7 linked regions of the Homo sapiens genome follow. The protein of the gene in region 7 purifies or fractionates together with the protein of the main gene of each other region. This does not show direct contact. Each region holds a gene or a part of one and is shown on either strand. Other genes may lie near its edges.

What was found.
Region 1: the proteins of FTSJ1 (region 7) and RAP1A purify together in Homo sapiens (co-immunoprecipitation; one large-scale study listed by IntAct). This does not show direct contact.
Region 2: the proteins of FTSJ1 (region 7) and TMEM33 purify together in Homo sapiens (co-immunoprecipitation; one large-scale study listed by IntAct). This does not show direct contact.
Region 3: the proteins of FTSJ1 (region 7) and IBTK purify together in Homo sapiens (affinity purification with mass spectrometry, with the first as the bait; one large-scale study listed by BioGRID). This does not show direct contact.
Region 4: the proteins of FTSJ1 (region 7) and GOT2 purify together in Homo sapiens (co-immunoprecipitation; one large-scale study listed by IntAct). This does not show direct contact.
Region 5: the proteins of FTSJ1 (region 7) and RIDA purify together in Homo sapiens (co-immunoprecipitation; one large-scale study listed by IntAct). This does not show direct contact.
Region 6: the proteins of FTSJ1 (region 7) and RRM1 purify together in Homo sapiens (co-immunoprecipitation; one large-scale study listed by IntAct). This does not show direct contact.

What each region holds. Positions count from the first base shown.
Region 1 is NC_000001.11:111,696,289-111,699,788, forward strand, and holds part of RAP1A (ras-related protein Rap-1A precursor), read left to right. Parts: intron 1-1,152; coding exon 1,153-1,209; intron 1,210-3,500. UniProt on the Homo sapiens protein: Counteracts the mitogenic function of Ras, at least partly because it can interact with Ras GAPs and RAF in a competitive manner. Together with ITGB1BP1, regulates KRIT1 localization to microtubules and membranes.
Region 2 is NC_000004.12:41,951,836-41,955,928, forward strand, and holds part of TMEM33 (transmembrane protein 33), read left to right. Parts: intron 1-2,234; coding exon 2,235-2,364; 3' UTR 2,365-4,093. UniProt on the Homo sapiens protein: Acts as a regulator of the tubular endoplasmic reticulum (ER) network by modulating intracellular calcium homeostasis. Mechanistically, stimulates PKD2 calcium-dependent activity. Suppresses the RTN3/4-induced formation of the ER tubules.
Region 3 is NC_000006.12:82,171,943-82,175,164, forward strand, and holds part of IBTK (inhibitor of Bruton tyrosine kinase), read right to left. Parts: intron 1,497-3,222; coding exon 1,425-1,496; intron 571-1,424; coding exon 438-570; intron 1-437. UniProt on the Homo sapiens protein: Acts as an inhibitor of BTK tyrosine kinase activity, thereby playing a role in B-cell development. Down-regulates BTK kinase activity, leading to interference with BTK-mediated calcium mobilization and NF-kappa-B-driven transcription.
Region 4 is NC_000016.10:58,706,342-58,710,620, reverse strand, and holds the end of GOT2 (aspartate aminotransferase, mitochondrial isoform 1 precursor), read left to right. Parts: intron 1-1,053; coding exon 1,054-1,204; intron 1,205-2,327; coding exon 2,328-2,450; 3' UTR 2,451-3,490; downstream 3,491-4,279. UniProt on the Homo sapiens protein: Catalyzes the irreversible transamination of the L-tryptophan metabolite L-kynurenine to form kynurenic acid (KA). As a member of the malate-aspartate shuttle, it has a key role in the intracellular NAD(H) redox balance.
Region 5 is NC_000008.11:98,107,017-98,111,109, reverse strand, and holds part of RIDA (2-iminobutanoate/2-iminopropanoate deaminase), read left to right. Parts: intron 1-2,358; coding exon 2,359-2,464; intron 2,465-4,093. UniProt on the Homo sapiens protein: Catalyzes the hydrolytic deamination of enamine/imine intermediates that form during the course of normal metabolism. May facilitate the release of ammonia from these potentially toxic reactive metabolites, reducing their impact on cellular components.
Region 6 is NC_000011.10:4,135,523-4,139,432, forward strand, and holds the end of RRM1 (ribonucleoside-diphosphate reductase large subunit), read left to right. Parts: intron 1-2,672; coding exon 2,673-2,861; 3' UTR 2,862-3,410; downstream 3,411-3,910. UniProt on the Homo sapiens protein: Provides the precursors necessary for DNA synthesis. Catalyzes the biosynthesis of deoxyribonucleotides from the corresponding ribonucleotides.
Region 7 is NC_000023.11:48,474,315-48,478,998, reverse strand, and holds the start of FTSJ1 (tRNA (cytidine(32)/guanosine(34)-2'-O)-methyltransferase), read right to left. Parts: upstream 2,801-4,684; 5' UTR 2,603-2,800; intron 2,437-2,602; exon of another isoform or gene 2,331-2,436; intron 1,039-2,330; 5' UTR 952-1,038; coding exon 831-951; intron 551-830; coding exon 481-550; intron 383-480; coding exon 292-382; intron 1-291. UniProt on the Homo sapiens protein: Methylates the 2'-O-ribose of nucleotides at positions 32 and 34 of the tRNA anticodon loop of substrate tRNAs. Requisite for faithful cytoplasmic translation.

The sequences.
Region 1 (3,500 bases), on a different chromosome or scaffold from region 7:
AGACATTTTTAGAATTTACCTTTAATAGTGCTGTAACTTTTGTTGAATTAATTTGTTAGTTCATGAAGGACTACTAGTAGAGCAGTTTCATTGTCTTCAAATTGGAAACAGAATTATGCTCTAGATACATCAAGAAACTATAGTCCTAATTGATTATTCACTGAACATTCCCAGTTACAAATTTTGCAGATTATCACACTTGTCCCATAAGTGGTGGGGTGGATGAGTTTGTGGTCTGACCAGTGGTGCCCCTCATCAATGTCTGATCTGACACAGAAGCAGAGTTTAAAATAGTCTTTAGGTTAGCACATTTATTTTTAGAAGACAGTGTTGCTCTACTGAAATTTCCCCAAAGTAAGTTGCTAGTTAAAGCTTTAACTGCAAAGCAAGATCTGTACCTAAAATTCTAAGGGACTAACTTTTCTTAATCCCTTCTTTATTAAAACAGTTTTCCACACAGTTGATAGTTGATACTTTCATTAGACCAACCTTCTTTTCTTTTATAAGACCAATGGGTAAATAGAACTCAGTGTATAAAATTTCACCTTTCACATAGAGCTTTTCTAGAAAAGTGCCTTTTTCTTGAGGCACTGTTTTAGCTCATTGCTGTTTATTTTAGTACTCCTGTGTTTCTTTTATGTCTTAAACTCAGATTTTACTGTGTATTTAATTTTCTGCATATTTTAGTAAAATTTTAACAACTTGAACATGGTAAGTTGGCAAGATTTTCTTTACCCCAAAATGTTGTGCGCATTTTGAGCCATTTAATATTTTTGTACTTTGTTTTCTTTGGAGATAATATAAATACACATATGTACTTTTTTTTCTGTTAGAACTATACTTGTTCGTTGAAGTTTTCCTTAAATTTCAAAATATGACTTTTGCCTTTTCTAATAACAAATAAGAATCGTTACAGAGGTCAGAAAATATCTAAACTCAGCATTAACCATCTTGGCTTCTGTAATATGAATAGACTGTACTTGAGACCGCTGTTCTTTATTGTGGTACCAAGTTTACCCCCAGCCATTACAGCATACTGCTGGAGACAGGCTTTGTATTTGTTAATAGTTACTTTGATGGAAGAGGTGGGAAGAAAACAGAATGAGATTTTGATGTTACTCTTTAACCTTTTTTTTTTTTTTGCCCCCACAGCAAGTTGAAGTCGATTGCCAACAGTGTATGCTCGAAATCCTGGATACTGCAGGGACAGTAAGGATGTTTTCTCTTTTTTTGATAGATTTTAATTTGTGAGCAGGTTTTGTCATCTGAGTAGGTTTTGTCATCCAGATAATTCTGAGTAAAAGTAATCATTCTGATTAAGAAGAAATTCTCTGAACATAGGGATTCTTAAGTATATGAAATCAACTCTGATGTAGTTCATGCTCACATATCACAAAGTTCACCTGTAATAATCTGTGTGTTGGGTTTCTTCCTACATTGAGGTAAGGATTATGCTGTCAGTGATTTTTTAAAATTTATTTTAAATTTAGAGCTTTAGTTAATATTTGTATTTCTATGGGTTTAAATAAGACCTTGTCTCTTGGCACCATAGTCATTAATTTTTATAATTTTTTCTTTTCACTAGCATTTTGACATCTCAAGGGGCTGGTGACAGATACATGTTTTCTGAGGAAGGCAAAAATCTTCCTCAGAAGATTTAGAATTATTTTGAGCCTCCTTTTTCTAATCTTTAAATGAGTATAATGATGTTAGTACATCATAAGGTGTTTGTGATAAGCAAATGAGTTAATAATTATAAATCATTAGGCATAATGTCTGTTACACAGTATGGAATTGTGTATTTGCTTTTATTCTTCTTCATTAATACCATCACCTTTATAATTTTTATTAATAACTGATGGTTTCCAGTTATACTGCCACATAAAATACATACATTAAGCAATCTTTGCTTTTCTTTGTTTATTTTTCTCCATGCACATAGACTTGACACATTAGGCAATTCTTAGCTTTAAAATGGATGGGTTCGTTTTTTGTTTTGCTTAAGAGACGAGGTCTTGCTCTGTCACCTAGGCTAGGGTGTAGTGGTGCAATCATAGTTCACCGCAGTCTCCTGGGCTCAAACAGTCTTCCTGCCTCAGCCTCCTGGGTAGCTAGAATTAAAGGCACGTACCACCACCCCCAGCTAATAAAAAAATTTTTTTTGTAGAGGTGGTTTCGCTGTGTTGCCCAGGCTAATCTCGAACTCCTGACCTCAAGTGTTCTTCCTGGCTCTGCTTCTGAAAGTGCTGGGATTATAGGTGTGAGCCATGGCACCTGGCTGGCATTTTTAAATGTGATAAGTTGTTTAAAATTCAGCACAAAGTTTTCCACTATAATTTTTATAAATGATGGAAACATTTCAGATAGTTCAAAAAAGCATGTAAGCAAATTGGAGTGATTTTATACAACAATATAGTACTAATTATACTGTATTTTTCCATTCTTTTTTGGGAAAATGGCTTAACTCTTATCAGGGACCTTTGCCCTCACAACAAGCTTCTGGTAAAGACCTTCTGAAACTACATTTTCTATCAGCTGAATCAAGCTATCTCTCCCTCTCCCACCCTCCTGCTCTCTAATGTTTTTAGCTTCTGAATCAGCAGAATTCCCCTTTGTTTCCAGAGACCCTAATAGCTAAAATGAATACTTTCTGCTTTTTTTTTTTTTAAATCACATCCACAGTGTACGGGCATTCTTCTTTCTCTGTCCAGATTGTAAGAAGGAAGTTCTCTATCACAGAGATCTTTACTTTGTGCTATCCAATATCGTGTCTGTCTCCCATCTAGCACTCAACACGCTGTGTTATAAGGCCTATTTGCTTGTTTGTGTCCCCAGTACCTTGCATAAAACCTTACAAACAGCTGCATAATCTTGTCTCAAAATCACTCCTTACACTTTGAAGATTTTTGCTTTCTCTCTTTCACATACACTGATTCAATCAGAATTCTTAGTGATTTTACTATCCATATAGAATCTATATGGATATTATAAATGATTTACTACCCTGGCTTGGCCTGTCATTTCCTTGATGTCCATCCTACCTTTAAGGCATTCATACCATGGTTTTACTCTAGGCTATGTGATTACCAATAAGTATAATACCTCTCTAATCTAATTTCCAAGCATCTTATCCTCCATTACTCACTACTTTTTTCTTTATCCATCTCACTTCCTCTTTTTTTTTTTTTTTTGAAACAGGGTCTCTCTCTGTCACCCAGGCTGGAGTGCAGTGGTGTGAACACAGATCACTGCAGCTTCAACCTCCCAGGGTCAAGAAATCCTCCCACCATAACCTCCTGAGGAGCTGGTGCTACTGCAGGTGCATACCACCACACCTAGCTTTTTTTTTTTTTTAATTTTTTGTAGAGACAGGGTCTCACTATATTGTCCAAGCTGGTCTTGAACTGGACTCAAGGGATCCTCCTGTCTTTGGCCTCCCAAAGTGCTGGGATAACAGGTGTGAGCCACTGCACCCAGGCCATCTCATTTCCTTTAGTGCC
Region 2 (4,093 bases), on a different chromosome or scaffold from region 7:
GTATATAGAGAATTGATAAATATCTGTGTCCACAAAGGTAGATGGTAGAAAGGACTAGATCATGAAAGGGTTTGGATTTTATTTTGAGGTAAGGAGAGCCTTTGAAGATTGTAACATAGAGAGGCTGGGAACCCCCATGATGAAATCTGATTTAGAAATATTCCAGAAAATGGATTGCAAGCTCAGCAAGAGAAGAAAAATATCAATTTGGAGACTATTAGAGTAGTCTAGAGCCTGAATTAATCCAGTGGTAAAAGGAAAAGGGGACAAATATGAAAGGTATTAGGAGATAGGATATTAGGGCTTGAGAGAAAAGAGTAAATTAAAGACCCACAGGTTTCTGGCTTGGAAGCCTAAGAGTTGTAATGGTGCTCTCACGAAGACAGGAGATACAGGAAGGGCAGGTTTTGGAAAATTATGCATTACTCCAAATATTATTATTCCTGTCTTTCTGTGCAAGCATATTAAATACTTGTTTAGAAAAGTAGATTTGTTGCTTTTTTTCTAACCATAGAAGTAAAACAGGACACAAAAAGGTAGAATAGTAGTTGCATCTTTATACAGGATGAGTCAGCACATAAGGTGAAAATTGTGAATGGTTAAAATTACCCTTGATGATCCTTCATATCACTTATAAATGTCAGTACAGTATACATGATTTTGTGTATACTAGCCTGTATAATATATGTGATATCTACAGTATGTAATAATACTTTGTAGGCAGTGAGCACAGTTAAGACATAGGCAAAGCCCACATGGTTTTGGGCACAAACATGCAACATAAGTTGATGATAGGAGCGAGGGCAGGGAGTGGCAGGAGATGGGGCAGAAAATTAGATTGAGACTAGATTGTGGAGGGTATTGGGTGTGACACCGAGTACTTGGGCTTTAGTCGGAAGGCATAAAAGAGTCATAGTTCAGTGTATTGATCCAACTGGGAAGTAACATTTATTGAGCATCTTCCATATTGCATTTAAATTTCACCACAACTCAGAATTATTTTACAGAAGAGGAAATCTCTGAGGGACAATATGTACATTTAAGGAAATAGTGGGTGAATAAATATAACTGTCCATGTTATATATTTTAAAATATATAAAAAACACTGTCCATGTAGTATATTTTTTCTTGTTCTGTTTTAAAAAACTAGTTGAAATTGCCTAAGTTAAATGTGAAAATGATGTGACTCTAAAATATATATATATAATTTTTAAAATTTAATCTGAGGTTTTAGAGATAGCCATTTATTAAATACCTTTGTTAAATGAGTGTTTCCACCCATAAAAGATGTAGGTGTTGTTTGAGAATTTCATTGTATTTTGTGTTTTCTCTACAATGCATTCTAGTTATTCTTTTACTTCAAATTCTAATGGCTATGGTAGATTCCTTCATGAGTATTTGTTTAGCATTAGAGGCATACTTCAGAAATGTTGTGGGAGTGGTTCCAGACTACCACAATAAAGTGAATATCACAAAGCTGTCAGATGAATTTTTTGGTTTTCCAGTGCATACAGAAGTTATGTTTACACTCTACTGTAGTCTGCTAAGTGCGCAATAGCATTACCATCAGCAGTAAGGCTGTTCTGCTTTCTTATCATTCATCCGTTCACAGAAATGGGCTTTTAATTTTCTTCAGGAACTTTTCCTTTGCATTCACAGCTTGGCTATTTGGCACAAGAGGTCTAGCTTTTGGCCTGTCTTAGCTTTAGCCATGCTTTTTTCACTAAGCTTAATCATTTCTAGTTTTCATCTAAAGTAACAGACATGGGAGGCCTCCTTTCACCTGAGCACTTAGAGGCCATTACAGGGTTATTAATTGGCCTAATTTCAGTATTGTGTCTCAAAGAATAGGTAGGTCTGAGGAGAGGGAAAGAGACCAATCAGGAATGGCCTTCATGAACTGCTTCATCTTATATTTGTGCAGTTTGTGGTGCCCCAAAACAGTTACAATAGTAACACCAAAGAGATCACCGTAACAGAACAGATCACAGATCACCATAATAGATTAATAATGAAAACATTTGAAATAGTGGAAGAATTGGCAAAGTGTGACGCAGAGACATGAAGTGAGCACATGCTGTTGGAAAGTGGCACTGATAGTCTTGCTGTATGCGGTGTTGCAACAAACCTTCAATTTGTAAAAAATGAAATATCTATGGAGTACAATAAAATGAGGTAAGCCTGTGTATTGCTTTTTCCTTGTGTTTCTCAAAGAAAACTATTTTGTCTTGCAGGACCTTATTTAATGAACTGAGGATTGTTGTTGAACACATAATAATGAAACCTGCTTGCCCACTGTTTGTGAGAAGACTTTGTCTCCAGAGCATTGCCTTTATAAGCAGATTGGCACCAACAGTTCCATAGTTTAACATCTAGTTAAGCTACAAATATAGTATAAGCATTATTAGCAGCTGGTACTTCTGCTAGGGGTTGTAAATTCCAGGTGTTACACTGACCTCAATCCAATTTACATAATTTACATAAATGCATCTCGGTGGAAAAATAATCATTTTCTTGGCATGTTAAATCAAGCTTAAAAAGTTTTGAGAAAATTTTACTGCGCTGTGTTGCTAATGGTTAAAGAAGTCTGTATCTAGTGATAAATATACCAGTTTTTTTAAAAAGATGCTGTTGTGCCTATATCATGAAGTACATTAATTTCTCATGTAAAAAAAATAGCTCTAAAATTTGTTTCAACCTAATTGGTAACCTGAGTTTATATCTGGCATGAATTCATTATGGTGATACACATATGTGAATTCAGTACATTTTGAGACAGTATTCTACCATTCAGTAATTTTGGTTAATGATTTTAACACTTCTCAGTGTATTTAATTTCAAATTGTTTTTTTAATTGGTTTTATGCTGCTTTGTTAGGACAGATGTGTTTTGAATGTACCATTATAAGAAGAATTCTATGTATCTTAAACTATGATCTTCTAAAATTTTATTTCCGTAAGTACTTCTGTGGCCTTGAGTATTTTTTAAAAGGCTCAACTGTAAGCCTCTTAGCCAGTTGGATAAATATTTGGGGTCACCTAGCCATTGAAAGCAGAAAGCAGTAGTGACACAGCTTTCCCTTCAAAGAGCCATTGAGAAACATTTCTCAAACAGGAAATCCTTCTTTTACTAATGTGGACATATAGATTATTCGTATTATAGTTTGTAGAACTACCTAGTTCAGAATCTTGACTGCCAGTTTTCTTGGTTTCTTAGGCTTGAATTTTCATAGACAATTGCAACAGTTTAGATGCCTTTTGAAAGGAATGTAATGAAGATTCAGCATCTGACTATATGTGTGTCTATCCTGAAATAATAATGGAGAGTATACTGTAGATTACATGTTTACCCATCAAATCTGACTTAAAAGGTTAAATGGAAGGTTTTATAGGTAAGGTAATTGATTGGGAATGGGGTAGGGGGAGGAGTTGTGGGGGAATAATGTGCATTTCAGTCTCAACGCATAGATAAATTTAGGGGAATTGGATGTATTATTCAACTTTGATTTGGGTTGTAAAATGTGTTAAATCCTGTTCATTGAACTCCCATCAACTCTTATAAAATTCATGCTGATCTTCATTACCGTTGCATGATTGGAAATGTTTAAAACATTGTACAGTTTTAGTATAGAGAAATGTAATGGTTTTTGTGACCAGTTTCTGTCTGCATGTAATTTGGATTTCTCAAATACATTCATTAGTAATTTATCAGTAACATTAGTTTTATTTTTGTTCATCTCCTTATCTATAAAAAGGGGATATTCTTAGGATAAATACATGAAAAATTATACTTGATAGCTTAACTATAATCAGCTATTTTTGTATTTTTGTAATATTTGTCCACTAAGCTGGAGAAGCAGCCTCATACAGTTGATTTTGTGTATGTGGCTAGTCTTATTGTCACTATGTAAGTAATCCAATGGTTTTAGAAACTAAACTTTCTAGAGCAATAAAATGACTATAATGTTAAGTAAACATAATGTTGATTTCTAATTATGTTTTAAAAAATGAAGTCTTGAATTATATCAAGAAATTTTGGCAGCTGAAGTCATGTTTATTTTGAAGCTGTTAGTTTTTTCCTATAATTTAAAAAG
Region 3 (3,222 bases), on a different chromosome or scaffold from region 7:
CCTGGCTGTCTGGTCTTTCAGCTAAGTCTATGGAATCTTAATATCCCTCAAATAAATTATCTTTTCCTTAAGTTAGCCAGAGTGGGCTTCTGTTGCTTACAATCTTAGAATTCTTACTGATACAGAAGCCAAGTGCAGCACTAGAGAATACTGCCAAATTCTCTACTGGTCATTTTAAAAAAACTAAAATAATCCAAAGTATCACCAAAGCAAAAATATAAGCTTTATCATAATTTATTAGTCATAAATTAATTGCCCTGAATATCTACAACTAATACATACACTGCTAGATGCCTCAGTTTAATTTTACCTGGCATTTACATTTTAATTTCATAGATACAAGCACCTGTCCAAAACAAACAAACACGATTTTCTTAAAACCTAAGTAGGAAATGTAGTTCTTCTCTAAATTAAACCCTACTAAGTATGTTATTTACCTGAATCAGAGCCAACGGTTTTTCTCGACTTCTAATAAGAGCTGCTTCTTGTTGTAGTTCTTCTTCTACAATAGATGCAAAAGTGACTGGGGCTACCATGGATGGAGCAGTCACTGAAGAAGATAGCCAGGGACTGAAAGAATAATAATAATGAGTTTCATTCATCTTCCTAAATTTTTGCATGCAAAATTTTCTCTGAAATACTTTTTAGCAATGCTACAATTCTTTCCAGTGACCTACAATGAACGAACCTGGAAGCTTTCACAGAGATTACAGAATGATGAGTTTCACTCATCTTCCTAAATTTTTGCATGCAAAATTTTCTCTGAAATACTCTTTAGCAATGCTACAATTTTTTCCAGTGACCTACGATGAGCGAACCTGGAAGCTTTCGCAGAGATTACAGAATGATGAGGTGAGAAACAGAAAAACAGAAGAACTAATGTTTTATTTGGACCAGTATTAGAGAGAAAATTTTGGAAAGTACCAGGAAATGGGGAGGGAGCAGAAACAACATAACTGAACAGAAAGGTAACTCAAACTACAGTACGGAGAGGATACAAGTAATACATTCTACTCAATACCATACTATTCCCAATTTCTTAACATTCTCTTATTCTCTTTTTTTTTTTTTTTTTTTGAGACAGAGTCTCACTGTGTCGCCCCGGCTGGAGTACAGTGGCATGATCGCGGCTCAATGCAATCTCTGCCTCCCAGGTTCAAACGATTCTCCTGTCCTAGCTTCATGAGTAGCTGGCATCACAGGCATGCGCCACCATGCCCAGCTAAGTTTTGTATTTTTAGTAAAGACAGGGTTTTGCCATGTTGGCTAGGCTGGTCTTGAACTCCTGACCTCAGATGATCCACCCGCCTCAGTCTCCCAGAGTGCTGGGATTATAGGCATGAGCCACTGCACTCAGCCTTAATGTTTTCAATGCTAAGCAGCAACTTAGCTTTGGAGGCCCATAACTTATCAATTAACCTTACTTGGGACTGTCTAGAAGTGGTAAATCTGAAATATGGTTGCCTTCTGGTCCTGGGGTACCATGGGTAGAGCATCTGCAAAACAAATGCCAAAATTAAAGATTAAAGCTTCTAGTAATATTAGTCAAACTGCTTATTAATAGATACAGAGGAAGAATTGTAAACTCCTGACTCCAGAGGCAAATTAAATGAGTGCAGTCAAGCTTACCTTTAAAATTATAAGTAAACAAAATAATCTATATTTATAAAACCTTCTGTATAAAATATCATAGAGAAAGATACTGCAAGAAATAGCCTATTTCTAATAATAAATATATATATACACACACCAGATAAACCAATAATCTCTAAATCAGATAATTAACAGCCGAATTTTGTAAGGAACTAATATACTTTATGAGCAAAGGATTACAGATAGGACAGAAATATAAAATATGATCTTTACCTTCTAAGAATTCACAAGCTAGTTGAGGAAACAACATACAAAATGACATATAAAATAACAGAACAGAATTTAAGACAGTATAACAAATTGAGTCACACTGGCTATAACAACTATAAAAATCACAATATTTAATCATTTGAGAGGGCCTCATGGATGGAATGAACTTGAGAAGATAATAAAAAAGAGGTATATGATGAAAGCAGTAAGAAGCATTCCAGTAAGGAGAAAAACTTAAAAAGGTACAATACAGATGGACCTAATTATGGAATTTTACAGCTAGAAAGGTCCCTAGAGATTATCTAGATTGCTCCAATGCTCTCTTTCAGCAATGAGAAAACTGAGGACTAGACAGGTTTAACAACACAAAGTCAAACAGAGAGTAAATTAACAGGACCTAAAATATTGACTTCGTGATTCATTTATACACATTTATTGAGCATGTCAGGATTACTGTAGGTGCTAAAAATCAGGCTGATTAAAACCCAATCTTCTCCCCTCAAAAAATTCTGATGGGGAAGATTTAAAAATATACTTAAGCAATGATAAAACAATGTATAAAGTACTATGGATGCACAGAAGAAAAAATACAATATGGAAGATTGTATATACTGATGGCTTCACTGAGGAAATGACATTAAAGCTGAGGAGACGTACAATTAGAAAGAATTTTGGTTGTACAAATACATGGACCTAAAAAAGATTTCAGTTATTTAAGTAAAGGCAGGCTGTTCTCTTCAATAAGCAAAGAATGCCTGAATTCAGGGTAAGGAAGAAACTTAAAGAGAAATAAAGTTTAAAAGAAACAATAGAGCCAGAGTACAAAATGCACTGAAAGCTAAAATGTTTAGCCCTAATGTGTGGGCAAACAAATTTACTAAAAGCCTAAGTACTTCATGTGTATTATCCCATTTAATCTTTGCAATACCCTGTGAAGAAAGCATATATTAACTATTATAGAGATTAAAAAACAAACTCAAAGAATATTATATAATTTGTCTGATTAACAAGTTAGATAAGTAGCAGAGAGATAACAAAAATCTGGTCTTTTTGATTTAGAGTACAGTGTTTTTTCCATGATCACACAGCTACCTTTATTTTTACTATTCCCCTTATTCTGGAATATATTCCACTTCAAATGTCTTCTCACTCTTTTACAGTTGGCTCAAATGTCACCTTCTCTCTCCTCCTACAAAACTTCAATCATTATGATAAAGCATCACACACTGTTATTATTGTTTACATGTCAATCTTAACTGCTAGACTAGTCTCTTGGGGAACAGGACTGTGTTTCATTCATCTTTGTATCTCAGTGTCCACCAGAATACTTGGAAATAGTCGTTTATGAAAAATTAATTA
Region 4 (4,279 bases), on a different chromosome or scaffold from region 7:
CGTGAGCCACCGTGCCCCGCCCACTTTTCTTAATACAGATGCAATTATGATGGGGTTACATCCCAATAAGCCTGTCATAAGTCAGAAATGCATTTAAGGCCAGGCTTATGTCTGTAATCCTAGCATTTTGGGAGGCCAAGGTGGGAGAATCACTTGAGCCCAGGAGTTCCAGACCAGCCTGGGCAAAATGGGGAGACCCTGTCTCTACAAAAAAAAAAAAAAAAGAAAAGAAAATTAGCAAGGCATGGTGGAATGCACTTGTGGTCCCAGCTACTTGGGAGGCTGAGGCAGGAGGATCACTTGAGCCTGGAAGATTGAGGCTGCAGTGAGCCATGATCATACCATTGTACTATCCAGCCTGGGTGATAGACTGAGACTGGGTGATGGACTGTATCTGAAAAAAAGAAAAAGAAAAAGAAAATGGGCCAGGCGTGGTGGCTCACACCTGTAATCCCGGCACTCTGGGAGGCCTAGGCAGGAGGATTGCTTGAACCTTGGAGTTTGTAACCAAACCGCGCAACATGGCAAAACCCCATCTCTACATTAAAAGAAAATTCATTTAATACACTTAACCTACCAAACATCATAGCTTACCCTAGCATACTTTAAACATGCTCAGAACAGGTATTAAACTACAGTTAAGCAAAATCATCTAACACAAAGCCATTTTATAACAGAGTGCTGAATGTCTCATGTAATTTATTCAATACTGTACTGAAAGAAACAAAATGGCTGTATGGGTACTTAAAGTACGGTTTCTATTGAATGTATATTGCATTTGTGCCATCATGAAGTTGAAAAGTTGTAAGTCAAGGACTGTCTCTACTCAAGTGTGTTAACTGCTTCAGTTGCCTTATGGAAATAGTGTTCCAATATAAAACAGAATGCTATAAAATAGCTTTCTTCCCTGGCCAGTGACAGCGTGTCACTCATTCGTGACCTGAGAATTGAGGCACACTAGGGGACTGCTCAAGGGAGGTAAAAATGCAGTGAACTCCAGCATATCGGTCAGTGCTTAGGCAGAATGAGCTGCATCTCAGGGTTTCTTTACAGGCTGCAAGAAGTGAAAGTCATGGCTGACCGCATCATTGGCATGCGGACTCAACTGGTCTCCAACCTCAAGAAGGAGGGTTCCACCCACAATTGGCAACACATCACCGACCAAATTGGCATGTTCTGTTTCACAGGGCTAAAGCCTGAACAGGTGAGTGATTCTGATTTCTCTGCAGCAGACCAGCTGATCAGTCTTTGCAAACCCGAAGGATTACTTTTTTTTCTTTTTTCTTTTTTATTTAATGTTTTCGGGTTTTTTGTTTTGTTTTGTTTTGTTTTGTTTTGTTTTTGTTTTTGTTTTTGTTTTGAGACAGTCTCGCTCTGAAACCCAGGCTGGAGTGCAGTGGTGCAATCTCAGCTCACTGCAACCTCCACCTCCCAGGGCTTAAGTGATCCTCCTGCCTCAGCCTCCCGAGCAGCTGGGACTAGAAGTGAGTGCCACCACACCTGGCTAATTTTTGTATTTTTTGTGGAGACATAGTTTCGCCATGTTGCCCGGGCTTGTCTTGAACTCCTGGACTCAAGCGATCCGCCTGCCTTGGTCTCCCAAACTACTGGGATTACAGGTGTGAGCCACTGAGCCCAGCCCCAGAAGGATTCTTCATAGATCACCCACCTGTTCAAAATTACCCTAAAAACAGTTAAAACAGTTATTTTGGAGCCCTTTTAGGTAAAAGTATTGTAATACTTTTTAGCATTTATTTTGCTTTTTTTTTTTAGTTGTTTACCTCTCTGTATCCCCCATGAACTCACAAACTTCTAAAGAGCAGAGCTTGTTTTGATCATGTTCATAATCACTGTTGCTTCTCCCAAGAGAGCAACAGGAGAAATAGCTGTTTCATAATTGAATCCTGGCTCTGCTGAATCTAAAGGTGTCTTTTTCCCCATCTGTTTATGCATCAGAATTCATCATCCTACTTTAAAGTAGCTTTTTTTTTTTTCTTTTTTTGAGATGGAGTCTCACTGTGTCGCCCAGGCTGGAGTGCATTGGCGCAATCTCGGCTCACTGCAGCCTCTGCCTCCCAGGTTCCAGGTTCCAGGTTCCAGCTATTCTCCTGCCTTAGCCTCCTGAATAGCTGGGATTACAAGTGTGAGCCACCGCCCCAGCCTTAAAGTAGCTTTTTATTCTTATTTTATTCCAAGCTAACAGCAAATTCTGGGAACAGGTTTTAAGCGAGGAAATAGAGCGTTGGTAAGTTGGCTACTGTGCCATGTCAGGCCGGGGAGAATCCCCTGTACCGGGAAGAGGTACCCAAGTTCTTTCCTCTCTGCAGGTGGAGCGGCTGATCAAGGAGTTCTCCATCTACATGACAAAAGATGGCCGCATCTCTGTGGCAGGGGTCACCTCCAGCAACGTGGGCTACCTTGCCCATGCCATTCACCAGGTCACCAAGTAATGTCCCTGGTGCGAGGAAACAGAGACAACCTTTCTGTCTTCAGCCTCTGCTATTGAGAGCTTCACACAGACAATGAGAGAGGGTGGATGGTGGTGAGTGGATCATTTCTTTCAGCCACAGTGTGTAACACTCAGCATTTGAATGTTTCTCAGAAAAGAACATGTAGTGACACAGGGCAGAGGCATCCATGGCTGGCGTCTGGAATATTAAACCAAACTCTCCCCGGTCCTTTTTTCTCCAACTTTTCTCAAAGAGTTTACATGTGCAAGAAAGTCATCGCACCAAAAAACCTGTCAATTATGCCATTGCAATATTTCAGAAGCTTTAACTGAAGTGTCAGGTTCCTCGTGAGAAACAGCACACGTTAGAGGCTTTGAGAGAAGGCCTAGTTCTGTCATGAGTAGTCGGCCTCGTGTCTGTCCTCCCATCTTGGAACAACCTTATCAACAGGCCGCACTGCAGAAATGATGTTTTATGAAAACCAATGAGGCTGCTGCCACTCCAGCAAGGGAAATAATGCAGTTTCCTGTCTTATTTAAGAAAAAGAGAAGGCTCTCTTTTCTCCCTTGTCATTGCCGTTCTTTTCCTTACACGCAAAGATTTTTTAACTATTGCAGATTTTCATCCCATTCTACTGCTTGATTGACCATCAACTCCATCCTATCGAGATTTATTTAAGAATGAAGAACATAATTTTCTGCTGATGCTGTACCCTCACCCTTTTCAGCAAAGAATAGTGGAGAGTAGGAAACTGTACTTTATCTCGGCATCCTCTTGAATGATAGTGCAAGTTTCTCCAGTTGGGATGTTGTCTCTGCCCGGTTGGACCTCCTCCCTTTGTTGAATGTGGTGTGCAGCCTCTCATCTCACACTGTGAGTCCAGCGGCGCAGGGTGGTACCAGGAAAGAGGATATTCTAGGCTTTGCGTGCTGCTAGCTGGGTTCAGGCTTCACCCACTGGAAAGAACCACCATCTGCTCTAACCATGTAGACTTATTGCGGCCTGGTTTCTCTGTTACAATAAAATTACTGTAGACCCAACTACTGTCTACTAAGTTATCTTTTTTCTTTAATGGGAGGAAGGGGTAGGAGTGGGTAAATAAATAAAGGGGTAGGAGTTTGGAATCGTGTAGCTGATCATAAGCCAGTAGATGTATCCACTATTCCAAATATTGGCTGAAGATTCGTCGTTTTCTTCATGTTGCCATTCAGTTTGTCCAGTCCGAAGATGCTGAGAATGTGGGTGTAATCCCTTGGACCTTGTGGGGAACAAGTGGAGTCCCATGAAGGATCCTGTGGATATAGGCAAAGGGTAGAAGGGGTGGAGGAGAAGTGACAACTTCAGTGGTCTATAGGAGCCAAGAAGGTAACGTAAATAAAAAAGTGTTGTGAACTGGATTTAAGTTGATCAGTGGTGATCAACCCTCATCCTCAGCATTGAGGAGCAGTAGTGAAGTGACAGGAGCTGTGAGGATGAACGCCCAAGGTGGTAGGTCTTACATTTTTCAAGAAAAATGGAAATCTTGATTTCTATGGTTGATCTGTTGGTGCTTAAAAGTTGGCAACTGGTTCAATTTTTAAAAAATTATTTGGGCCAGGCATGGTGGCTCACGCCTGTAATCCCAGCACTCTGGGAGGCTGAGGTGGGCAGATCACCTGAGGTCAGGAGTTTGAGACCAGCCTGACCAACATGGAGAAACCCTGTCTCTACTAAAAATATAAAATTAGCTGGGCATGGTGGCGCATGCCTGTAATCCCAGTTACTCAGGAGGCTGAGGCAGGAGAATCGCTTGAACCCAGGAGGCGGAGGTTGCAGTGAGCCGAGATCGC
Region 5 (4,093 bases), on a different chromosome or scaffold from region 7:
AGTAAGCACTTTGCAGAAATGAAGTTGTATTAGTTCGTTTCCACACTGCTATAAAGATACAACCCGAGTATTTATAAAGAGGCTTAATTGACTCACTGTTCCACATGGCTGGGGAGGCCTCAAGAAACTTACAATAATGGCGGAAGGGGAAGAGGCACATCGTATATGATGGCAAGCAAGAGAGAGTGTACATGTGTAGGAGGAACTGTCAGACACTTATAAAACTGTTAGATCACGTGAGAACTCACTATCATGAGAACAGCATGGGGGAAACTGCCCCCATGGTCCAGTCACCTCCCACCAGGTCCTACTCTCAACATGTGGGGATTATGGGCATTACAATTCCAGATGAGGTTTGGGCAAGGACACAGCCAAGCCATATCAGAAGTGGACCCTCAAAAGTATATCCTTAATTGATCCTCCAATAAGCAGTGACTAATCTTGTCTGAAGATGACTACTTATGTTTTTAAAAGTGCTCTTGAAATTGCATTTTTTTGCTTTACAGCTATATTGAGGTATAAGTTACTTATAAAAGTTACCCATTTTAATGGCTGGGTGTGGTGGCCCACGACTGTAATCCCAGCACTTTGGGAAGCGGAGGCAGGCGGATCACCTGAGGTCAGGAGTTCAAGACCAGCCTGGCCAACATGGCAAAACCCCATCTCTACTAAAAATGCAAAAATTAGCTGGGCGTGGTGGCTCACACCTGTAATCCCAGCTACTTGGGAGGCTGAGGCAGAATTGTTTGAACCCGGGAGGCGGAGGTTGCAGTGAGCCAAGATTGTGCCACTGCACTCCAGCCTGGGTGACAGAGTGAGACTCCATCTCAAAAAAACAAGTCACCCATTTTAATTAAGTGTAGTGTTCCATGAGTTTTAGTAAATGTATAGAATCATGCATCCACTATAATAGTCAAATTTTAGAATATTTCTATCACTCCCAAAAAATTCCCTTGTACCCATTTATGATCACCCCTGGCCCTAGACAACAATTAATAATCTGCTGCTGCTATTTTCTTTTCTAAGGTTTCATTTAAGTGAAATAAGACAATATATAGTCCTTTGTTGGATCTATCAGTGGGTGCATGTGTGTGTGTCTTGCTTTTTTGCTATAAATAATGCTATTCTGAACATTCACGTAAACTCTTTGGACATATGTTTTCATTTCTCTTGGATAGTTGCCTAGGAAAGAAATTGCTGAGTTGAGGCTCAAGCCTGTAATCCCAGCACTTTGGGAGGCCAAGGCAGGAGGATCACTTGAGTCCAGGAGTTTGAGACCAGCCTAGGCAACATAGCAAGACCTCATCTCTACAAAAAATAAAAATAAGTAAATAATAAAATAAAAAATTAGCCAGGCATGGTGGTGCACACCTTTAGTCTCAGCTACTTAGGAGGCTGAGATGGGAGGATCACTTGGGCCTGGGAGGTCAAGGCTTCAGTGAGCCAACATCCTACCACTGCACTTCAGCCTGGGTGACAGAGCAAGATCCTGTCTCTAAAAGAAGAGTTTGCTGGGTTGTATGTTAAATATATGTTTAAATTTTTAAAGAAACTGCCAAACTATTTTCTAAAGTGGCTGTACCATTTTGCATTACTACCGACAATGTATGAGGGTTGCTCCCCATCATTGCCAATGCTTACTTTATCAGTGATGTCTTAGTGTGTGGTTTTGCTTTGCATTTCTCTAATGACTACTAATGTTGAGCAAATTTCATGTACTCTAACTCTTTGTATATTTTCTTTTGTGAAGTATCATTTGCTCATATTTTATTGGGTTTGTCTTCACATTATTGACTTTTAAGAGTTCTTCTTATATTCTGGATATAGGTACTTTATTAGGTATATGTTTTGCAAATATTTTTCTCCCAATCTATGACTTGCCTTTTCTTCCCCCGACCCCTTTTTTTATTTTGGGTCTTTCTCTGTTACTCAGTGCCACTGAGGCTGGAGCGCAGTGGTATACTCATGGCTCACTTCAGCCTTCAACTCCTGGGCTCAAGCAATTCAATCACCCTAGCCTCCTGAGTAGCTGGGACTACGGGTGTGCGTCACCATACTTGGCTGTTTTTTATTGTTTTTTGTAGAGACTGAGTGGTTGCCCAGGCTGATCTCAAACTCCTGGTCCCAAGCGATCCTCCTGCTTCACCCTCCCAAAGCACTAGGATTACAGCACCCAGCCCCTTTTCATTTTCTTAAAGATATCTTTGATAAACAAAAGTTTTCAATTTTCATGAAGTCCAATGTATCTGTTTTTTTTTTTTTACAATTTATACTTCTCTGTCCTATCAAAAAAGTCTTCTAGCATTGAATTTTATGTTTTATACTTACATAAATACACTAGCTTTCTGTTTATTGCAGTCAAGCTGTATTAGTCGACAGGACCATTTACATTTCAGGACAGATAGGCATGGACCCTTCAAGTGGACAGCTTGTGTCAGGAGGGGTAGCAGAAGAAGCTAAACAAGTAAGTTATTTTCCACATTTAAGGTTCCCTTTTCTACTACCTTTTTAATGTTGAAGAGCATTAAGAATCCACTTGCCTGATTTGTTTTATAGAGATTAACAGATAAATGTTTTTTAAACTACTTACTGCTTGATTTAACATAGTTTTTGATCTAAGAGTTGGAAATTTGATGGATCATGAATCATCTAACAACCAAAAGAGAGATTCCACCTCCTTAACACTAAGGTGACCTTAAACCTGAATTATTGACGTCAGATGACATGTTGCCACTTCCACATGGATTGGGAAATTTTCTTCTCAGGGCCACTGACCTGCCCCTCTTCAAAAAAAAAAAAAAATTACCACCACAGAAGTAAAAAGTCAACATTTTTAAAAATAAGAATGGGGAATATAATTTTAATCCAATAAATATAATTAAACCATAATTTAGGCCAGGCACGATGTGGCTCACACCTGTAATCCTAGCACTTTGGGAGGCCGAGGCTGGCAGATCACTTGAGGTCAGGAGTTCAAGACTAGCCTAGACAACATGGTGAAACCCCATCTCTACTAAAAATACAAAAATTAGTTGGGGGAGGCCAGGCACAATGGCTCACACCTGTAATCCCAGCACTTTGGGAGGCCGAGGCGGGCAGATCACCTGAGGTCAGGAGTTCAAGACCAGCCTGGCCAACATGGTGAAACCCCGTCTCTACTGAAAATACAAAAATTAGCCAGGTGTGGTGGCATGTGCCTGTAGTCCCAGCTACTCGGGAGGCTAAGGCATGAGAATCGTTTGAACCCGGAAGGCGGAGGTTGCAGTGAGCTGAGATTGTGCCACTCCACTCTAGCCTGGGCAACAGAGCAAGAACCCTGTCTCAAAAAAAAAATAGAAAAAAAAAGTAACCCAGTCAGGTGGCACATGCCTGTAGTCCCAGTTACTCAGGAGGCTGATGCAGAAGAATCGCTTAAACCTGGGAGGTGGAAGTTGCAGGAAGCCAAGATCGTGCCACTGCACTCCTGCCTGGGACACAGAGCAAGACACTGTCTCAAAAAATAAAATAAAATAAAACAATAAACTATAATTTACTGCATTTACTGAGTCATATAATGCTGAAAGTTTGTTTTGTTTTGTTTTGTTTCTTGAGACAGCCTTGCTCTGTCGCCCAGGCTGGAGTGCAGTGTCGTGATCTCAGCTCACTGCAACCTCTGTCTTCCAGGTTCAAGCAATTCTCTTGCCTCAGCCTCCCAAGTAACTGGGACTACAGGCACACGCCACCACACCTGGCTTATTTTTTGTATTTTTAGTAGAGACGGGGTTTTACCGTGCTAGCCAGGATGGTCTCGATCTCCTGACCTCATGATCCACCCACCTCAGCCTCCCAAAGTGCTGAGATTACAGGCATGAGCCTCCACACCCGGCCTAGCTGAAAGATTTTTAAAAACCTAAATATCCACTCATAAAGAACTGGTTGAATAAATTATGCTAGATCAATACAACTAAAGTAATGTGGAAAGATCTCCGAGGTAAATTGTTCCATGGTAATAAAACCAAGATGCAGAACAACATGCACAGTATGCTACCATGTGTGCTTGTGTGTTTAAAAATATGTAACATAAGCATTGACTGTACCTAGAAGGATATACAAT
Region 6 (3,910 bases), on a different chromosome or scaffold from region 7:
CTGTCCGTACAATTACCAAGTTGTGTTGATTGTTCCTTTGTATTATTTCTTAAATATCTTCCTTCCTTTTCTGCTGCTGTTATTCTAAACTGACCTTATTGCTTCTAGGATCTCTGCTCCCAGCCATTTTGTGTGCATTACCACCATTCCTCAGATAAAACTTTGCACACGTCAACCCGCTATTCAAAAACATCCATTGTTTTCTCACTTTATAAAGTGAAAGCCAGCTTACTTAGCTAGTCGTTGCCAGCTGTAAAGTCTGGTGATTTTGGATTATGTTCTTATTCCCTGATAATGTATTGGGTATTTAAGTAGAATTATAAATTTGTTTTTTAATTTAACATTTATTGAACATCTAGTATGTGCCAGGACTGAGGATACTGAATAGAAGATGATGATCTTTATCTTTGAAGTCTTATAGTCTGTTGTTACACAGAGACACAGTCTAGCTCTCTAAACAGTTATAACCTAAGGCAGACATATTGTCTTGGGCAAACCTGGAAGTCATATGCATAAAAACAAAGACAAAAGAATAAAAATGTTTGACCTTTCCAAAGAGATAAGCCTGTTTTAGGAGTGAAAAGAACAGGATATTTCTGTCTGACTCACAAAGCATTTTTGAGAGTACTCCTAGAGGAGATAGAATTCCAAGTTTAAAAAAAGTTTGATCTGGTTCATGGGAATGTATTTTATTTTATGTATGTATGTATGTATTTTGAGACAGAGACTCACTCTGTTGCCCCGGCTGGAGTACAGCGGCATGATCTTGGCTCACTGCAACCTCTGTCCTGGGTTCAAGTGATTCTCATGTCTTAGCCTCCTGAGTAGCTAGGATCACAGGTGTGTGCCAACACACCTGGCTAATTTTTGTATTTTTATTAGAGATGGGGTTTTGCCATGTTGGCCAGGCTGGTCTCAAACTCCTGGCCTCAAGCAATTCACCTGCCTCGGCCTCCCAAAGTGCTCGAATTACAGGTGTGAGCCACTGTGCCTGGCCAGGAATGTATTTTATTTTATTTTAATATTATTGTTTTATTTTATTTTATACTTTTTTAGACGGAGTCTCGCTCTGTTGCCCAGGCTGGAGTGCAATGATACAGTCTTGGCTCACTGCAACCTCAGCCTCCTGAGTAGCTGAAATTTATAGGCATGTACTACCCCTCTTGGGGGATTACAGGCATGAGCCACAGCGCCCAGCCAGGAATGTATTTTTTTGTTTGTTTGTTTGTTTGTTTTTTCTTTTTATTTATTTATTTATTTATTTTTATTGATCATTCTTGGGTGTTTCTCACAGAGGGGGATTTGGCAGGGTCATAGGACAATAGTAGAGGGAGGGTCAGCAGATAAACAAGTGAACAAAGGTCTCTGGTTTTCCTAGGCAGAGGACCCTGCGGCCTTCCGCAGTGTTTGTGTCCCTGGGTACTTGAGATTAGGGAGTGGTGATGACTCTTAACGAGCATGCTGCCTTCAAGCATCTGTTTAACAAAGCACATCTTGCACCGCCCTTAATCCATTTAACCCTGAGTGGACACAGCACATGTTTCAGAGAGCACAGGGTTGGGGGTAAGGTCACTGATCAACAGGCTCACAAGGCAGAAGAATTTTTCTTAGTACAGAACAAAATGAAAAGTCTCCCGTGTCTACTTCTTTCTACACAGACACGGCAACCATCCGATTTCTCAATCTTTTCCCCACCTTTCCCGCCCTTCTATTCCACAAAGCCGCCATTGTCATCTTGGCCCGTTCTCAATGAGCTGTTGGGCACACCTCCCAGACGGGGTGGTGGCCAGGCAGAGGTGCTCCTCACATCCCAGACGGGGCGGCGGGGCAGAGGCGCCCCTCACCTCCCAGACGGGGCGGCTGGCCAGGCGGGGGGCTGACCCCCCACCTCCCTCCCGGACGGGGCGGCTGGCCGGGCGGGGGGCTCACACCCCCACCTCCCTCCCGGACGGGGCGGCTGGCCGGGCCGGGGGCTGAACCCCCCACCTCCCTCCCGGACGGGGCGGCTGGCCGGGCAGAGGGGCTCCTCACTTCCCAGTAGGGGCGGCCGGGCAGAGGGGCCCCTCACCTCCCGGACGGGGCGGCTGGCCGGGCTGGGGGCTGACTCCCCCCACCTCCCTCCCGGACGGGGCGGCTGGCCGGGCGGGGGGCTGACCCCCCCACCTCCCTCCCGGACGGGGCGGCTGGCCGGGCAGAGGGGCTCCTCACTTCCCAGTAGGGGCGGCCGGGCAGAGGCGCCCCTCACCTCCCGGACGGGGCGGCTGGCCGGGCTGGGGGCTGACTCCCCAACCTCCCTCCCGGACGGGGCGGCTGGCCGGGCTGGGGGCTGACTCCCCAACCTCCCTCCCGGACGGGGCGGCTGGCCGGGCGGGGGGCTCACACCCCCACCTCCCTCCCGGATGGGGCAGCTGGCCGGGCGGGGGGCTGACCCCCCCACCTCCTTCCCAGATGGGGCGGCTGGCCGGGCAGAGGACCTCCTCACTTCCCAGTAGGGGCGGCCGGGCAGAGGCGCCCCTCACCTCCCGGACGGGGTGGCTGGCCGGGCGGGGGCTGACCCCCCCACCTCCCTCCTGGACGGGGCGGCTGGACAGGAATGTATTTTAAATATTGGTGTGGAATGTCTAGTATTCTCACAGAGTTTCTCCTAATAATTGTCTTTACTTTCCTTGTAGGGTTTGAAGACTGGGATGTATTATTTAAGGACAAGACCAGCGGCTAATCCAATCCAGTTCACTCTAAATAAGGAGAAGCTAAAAGATAAAGAAAAGGTATCAAAAGAGGAAGAAGAGAAGGAGAGGAACACAGCAGCCATGGTGTGCTCTTTGGAGAATAGAGATGAATGTCTGATGTGTGGATCCTGAGGAAAGACTTGGAAGAGACCAGCATGTCTTCAGTAGCCAAACTACTTCTTGAGCATAGATAGGTATAGTGGGTTTGCTTGAGGTGGTAAGGCTTTGCTGGACCCTGTTGCAGGCAAAAGGAGTAATTGATTTAAAGTACTGTTAATGATGATAATGATTTTTTTTTTAAACTCATATATTGGGATTTTCACCAAAATAATGCTTTTGAAAAAAAGAAAAAAAAAACGGATATATTGAGAATCAAAGTAGAAGTTTTAGGAATGCAAAATAAGTCATCTTGCATACAGGGAGTGGTTAAGTAAGGTTTCATCACCCCTTTAGCACTGCTTTTCTGAAGACTTCAGTTTTGTTAAGGAGATTTAGTTTTACTGCTTTGACTGGTGGGTCTCTAGAAGCAAAACTGAGTGATAACTCATGAGAAGTACTGATAGGACCTTTATCTGGATATGGTCCTATAGGTTATTCTGAAATAAAGATAAACATTTCTAAGTGATTGTATGAGATTAATTTTGTCATTTACTTTCATATAAAAGTCAAATTTGAAAAACACATTTTCTGTTCTTTGAGAATTCAGGGAGGAAATTATATGCCTTTTTCTTTTCTTTTCCTTTCTGTAGTAAAATATACCTAATATACAATTTACCATTTTACCCATGTTTAAACATAAAATTCAGTGGCTTAAGCACATTCATAGTGTTATACTACCATCACCACTATTTGTTTCCAGAACTTCATCATCCCAAACAGAAACTCTGTATCAATAAGAACATTAACTCCCCCTTTCCCCTCCAAGTCCCTGGTAACCTCTATTCTACTTTCTGTCTCTATGAATATGCCTCTTCTAGGTACCTCGTATAAATGGAATACATGTCTGGCTTATTTCATTTAGCATAATGTTTTCACAGTTTATCCATGTTATAGCATGTATCCAAATTTCATTCTTTATGTATACCACACTTTTTTTTTTTTTTTTTTGAGACAGAGTCTTGCTCTGTCACCCAGGCTGTACGATCTTGGCTTGGCTCACCACAACGTCTACCTCCTGGGTT
Region 7 (4,684 bases):
ACTGCTGCCCTCAGATCCCGCCTGCCCATGGTCCTGGCCCACAGCCCCTGGGTCAGCCAAATTCCCAGGCTTTGCCTCTCTAAGACTGGGCTCCACCTCTGGGGACCCAGCATCATCATTTTCTGCTGTGTCTGTGCAATGATGACCTGCTGACTGTTTCTCCATGGTTACTCTCTCACTCTCTTTCTCTCTCTGTTTCTATCACCTCTCTGTTTCTCTTCCACTCTGCATAGACCCCAGGTAAGGGCCTTCACCCAGGATATACCCCAACACCCTCAGCCATGCTCTTACCTGGGTGATGTCCCCCTGGATCTGTACCACACCTGGTAGTGGAGCCATAGCCTGCAGGTCCACAGCCACCACGTGGCCGGACCCTTGGCCCCTGTGGACAACATGGCCCACATCAGCCTAGTTTCGCTCCCGGGCCCCTCCCACCCAGCCGGCCCTCCTGGGTCTCCCATCTGGGACCCCCACACTTACCCGATCTTCTGGCTCAGCACCTGGCTCCAGCTGCCTGGGGCTGCACACAGGTCAACTGCCCGTGTCACGCCTGGGCATACATAGTGAAAGCATCCTGATCAGCTGCACCCACTTCTCCAACCTGGAGACCCTTGCAAAATTCACCCCTCTCCCCTGGGGAGCACCCACATATCTCCATTGCCCAGGTGCCCAACTCCTCTCCGGTATTCTGCCTATCTTCCTGCCTGTCTCCCTGCCCCAGAGACCCTCTGAGTCAGCCCACCTACCACAGGGAGCTCTGCAGACCCAGCCTACTTGTTTACCTCCTGTGCCCACCTCACCGCCCAGTGACCTGCCCACCAGTCAGGGACCTTGGAAGAGTTGGAATTCCTTATCCAGTTGTAGCAGTTTGAAGGCGCTGCGAGCACGCCAGCCATTCTCCTTGGCCAGGCGGTAGTAGACATCCCGCTTGTCCTTTGACGTCCGTCCCATTTCACACACCAGTTGCTCAAGGACCTGCCGACAGTCCACTGATGCCGGCCAGTATCAGTAACCAGATGAATGGGCTACCACCTACCTCTGTAGGGCGGAGAGAACCACACAAACTAAACTGGGCTCATCTGACCCACATGACAGCTCACACAGAAGATGGGCTGACTGAAGCCCTGGCACTGACCCCACTGACCTTATAGGGCCTGAAGGACCCAATCACTGAACTCTCAGGCTCCACTGCTTATCACACAGACCCTCCTCGCCCCCATCACTTACCCCACAGTTCCCACAAAAGACCCCATAAACCCAACATTCATCCCATAGATGGCCCACTTGTGAACCTGTCCACCTCCCATCACTGTCACCCACACTCCACACATTAAACCCTGCAACTGCCACTATCAACCCTTCTCTGCTCATGTCATGCCCATTAAAATCTCACTGACTGTATCCCCAGTTGTCCCCATTGCCCCTAGATTCATATAGTCCTATTAGCCCCCATTAATCCCTTGTTTTCCACCTTTATCCTAATACTACTTCATTGTACCTCCCACTCCCTATATCTCTCTCGTTTCACCCCATTCGCCATTAATCCCTTAGATGATTAGGCCCCTTTATTACTACATCCTTATGAACCTCTAACAATGCCTGGAGAATCATGGTCTATTAGCTCCCCATTAAGCATTCAATTACTGATTTATCAGCCCCCATTAACTCAGTTTTCTCCAATAGACCCTTCATAGATCACAGCACTAGCCTCCTGCCCTGTAACTCTTTCATTAACAAACACGTTAACTGATCACACATCAGTTCCCCATTCTCCCCTCACTGTCCACCCTGCTCTCCATGGATCCATCACTGGATGATCACACTCCAACAGTTTACTATTCACCTACTATGTATCAACAGAAGTTAACCCCCCCAACCCTAGTTTACTATTGCCCTCTCTTTACTCACTCTGTCCCCTAATTCCTCGACGGTCATGCCACCATAGCCCAACTACTGACTCTGACTACAACACCATCAGCCTCTCATTATCTTTTCTTTCACCAAGGCCCCTTGATCATGACCTCCATCCATCTATTATTCCCCCCACAACCTCACCATCATCCTTGCCATTACGATGCCCCATCACTTTCCATTAACCCGTTGAATATCATACCTCCATCAATACCTGGGGGATCATTTTCCCATCCATCACTCGTTATATTCTAGTTGCTTACTCTGCCATCCCCTCATTAATCAATCAATGAACAACAGTTCGACTAAAATATTCTTATTAGCCCCCATTGATTCCCCAGTAACACCCCACCCTCACGCTCCACCCAACCTCCCAAAACAGCCTTCTGACCACACTCCCCGTCCCTCCTCATCAATACCTCAAAGATGATAGCTCCATCGGGACCACCGGGTACCCCTCCAGGCGGCTCCGACCGCTGCGTCCCATGTCCCCACCTCGAATCCACCCCGTCTACTGGTCCCCTTCTGCAGACAAACCTTGGGTCTAGAACCCACCCGGTGCCAGCCGCCCGAACCATACACAGCTACGGCGCCCAGGGCGGACCTCCCTCCTTTCCCCGCAGGCGGGACAGTGCAGGCGTGCCTCAATAGCCTCCGCCCGCATTCCTGTCCTCCGCGCCCCAGGGCCCACCTTAGTTTTCGGAGCAGGGTGGTCCGCGAGCAGCCTGTGCCTCGGCGAGAGCGCAAACGGGCGACAAGTCCTAGGGCTTCAGTTTGTGTTCGTAGTCCACCCGAATGCCCGGGGGGGCAAGCCTATGGGCTGTCGCAGCGTGGCAAACTCGGCATCGTGGATCGCCCAGGTTCCGGCGGGCCGGGACCTGATGTGAACGTACAACGTGAGCCCCGTCATCTATTGTCGACGTATCCGGGGCTCGCGAACTGCGTTTCCCGGCATGCAACGGGCACGGCCAAAGCGGCTGAATCCACGCACTGCGTGGCTGCAGCGACGCGACGCGCAAGTTGCCAGCGATTCTTTGTTCTTTTTCTTCCGAGGCCAAGATCGATTTGCTCCCCCGCCCCTCCCTTCTTGGACCGTGCTTGTTATTGAGCCTGTAAACTACATTTCCCAAGATGCCACGCGCAAGATGGCGCCCATTCATTTTTCGCGTGCCGGGAAGCGAAATTACCACTCGGGGCATAAACGTGACAGTAAGGAAAATGCGTTCTTGAAGTGCGCGAGCGCGCGGAGGCTGCTCGGCTGCAATTTCAGATCGCACTACAGCTAATGCATGGCGCTGCCTGAGTTTTACTGCCTCAGAACTTCAGTTTCCCTGTCTGGAAAGTGGGGATAATCAATAGTATAGACTTAACAGCATTATTGGGAGGGTTAAATAGGTGTAGCTTAGCCACTCTCTGGGCTTTTGTAATTCTGTGATCTTCAAATATTTTAAATTCCATCCCAGACACAAAAAAAGACTATACATCCTGACCCAGTGGACAAACGGAAAAATAATGAAAACGTTTATCATAGTGTTTACCATGTGCTAGGCTCTAAATGCCCTCAGTGGTGTGCTGGTAAATGGTTAACCACTGGCTGGGGCGGGGGTGGTGGCGGGGAGGGGTGGGGGGAAGGGAGGCTGGTTTCTAGCATTTACCAATTTCCATGGCTTAGGTACAATCTTCTTGTTAGATTTCAAGGTACCGACCTGTGGTCACTGAACAGGGAGTTTAAAAGAGATGCAGTAGTGCACTATCATGTATTATTTTTACCATACAGATAAAATGGGGGTAAATGACCTCAAGAGCATAGAGAATAGTGGAATGTGGTAAAATTAGGAAGTTACCAGTTTTGAGTAAGTTTATATCATTTCATTTTTAACCATAGCTGTTTAACTTTAGGGGGCTGAGGTGGAAGGATCGCTTGAGTCCAGGACTTCAAGACCAGCCTGGGCAATATGGTGAGATCCCCGTCTCTACAAATAATAAAAATAGCCGGGCGTGGTGGTGTGTGCGAGTAGTTCCAGCTACTTGGGAGGCTGAGGTGGGAGGATTGCATGAGCCTGGGAGGTCAAGGCTGCAGTGAGCCTTGATCTTGCCACTGCACTCCACTGTGGGTGACAGAGTGAGACCCTGTCTCAACAAACAAACAAAACCAGTTGTTAAACCAGCTGTTTAACAACCAGTTTGCAAAATTTCTGAAAATTGAACAGCTCCTCCCAACCTGTATAAGTTGGCTCCAGCATGTCCTTCCCTTTGTTCATTCATTTTAATCCTGGCAACATGCATATGAGTATTAGCCAGGGGCGGCGGCATGTGCCTTTAGTCCCAGCTACTCCAGAGGCTGAGGTGGGAGGATCCCTGGAGCCCAGGGGTTTGAATCTAGTCTGGGCAACATAGCGAGAACCCATGTCTCTTTAAAAAATAAAAGGGCTGGATGCAGTGGCTCACGCCTATAATCCCAGAACTTTGGGAGGGCGAGGCGGGGGGATCACTTGAGGTCAGGAGTTGGAGACCAGCCTGGCCAACATAGTGCAACCCCGTCTCTACTAAAAATACAAAAATTAGCTGGGCGTGGTGATGCGCACCTCTAGTCCCAGCTACTCAGGAGGCCAAGGTGGGAGGATCACTTGAACCTGGGAGGTGGAGGTTGCAGTGAGCCGACATCGTGCTACTGCACTCCAGCTTGGGCGACAGAGTGAGACCCTGTCTCAAGAAAAAAAAAAAAAACAGAATGATTGATTCCTTAGCACACGAGCTTCACCAGGCAGGGATT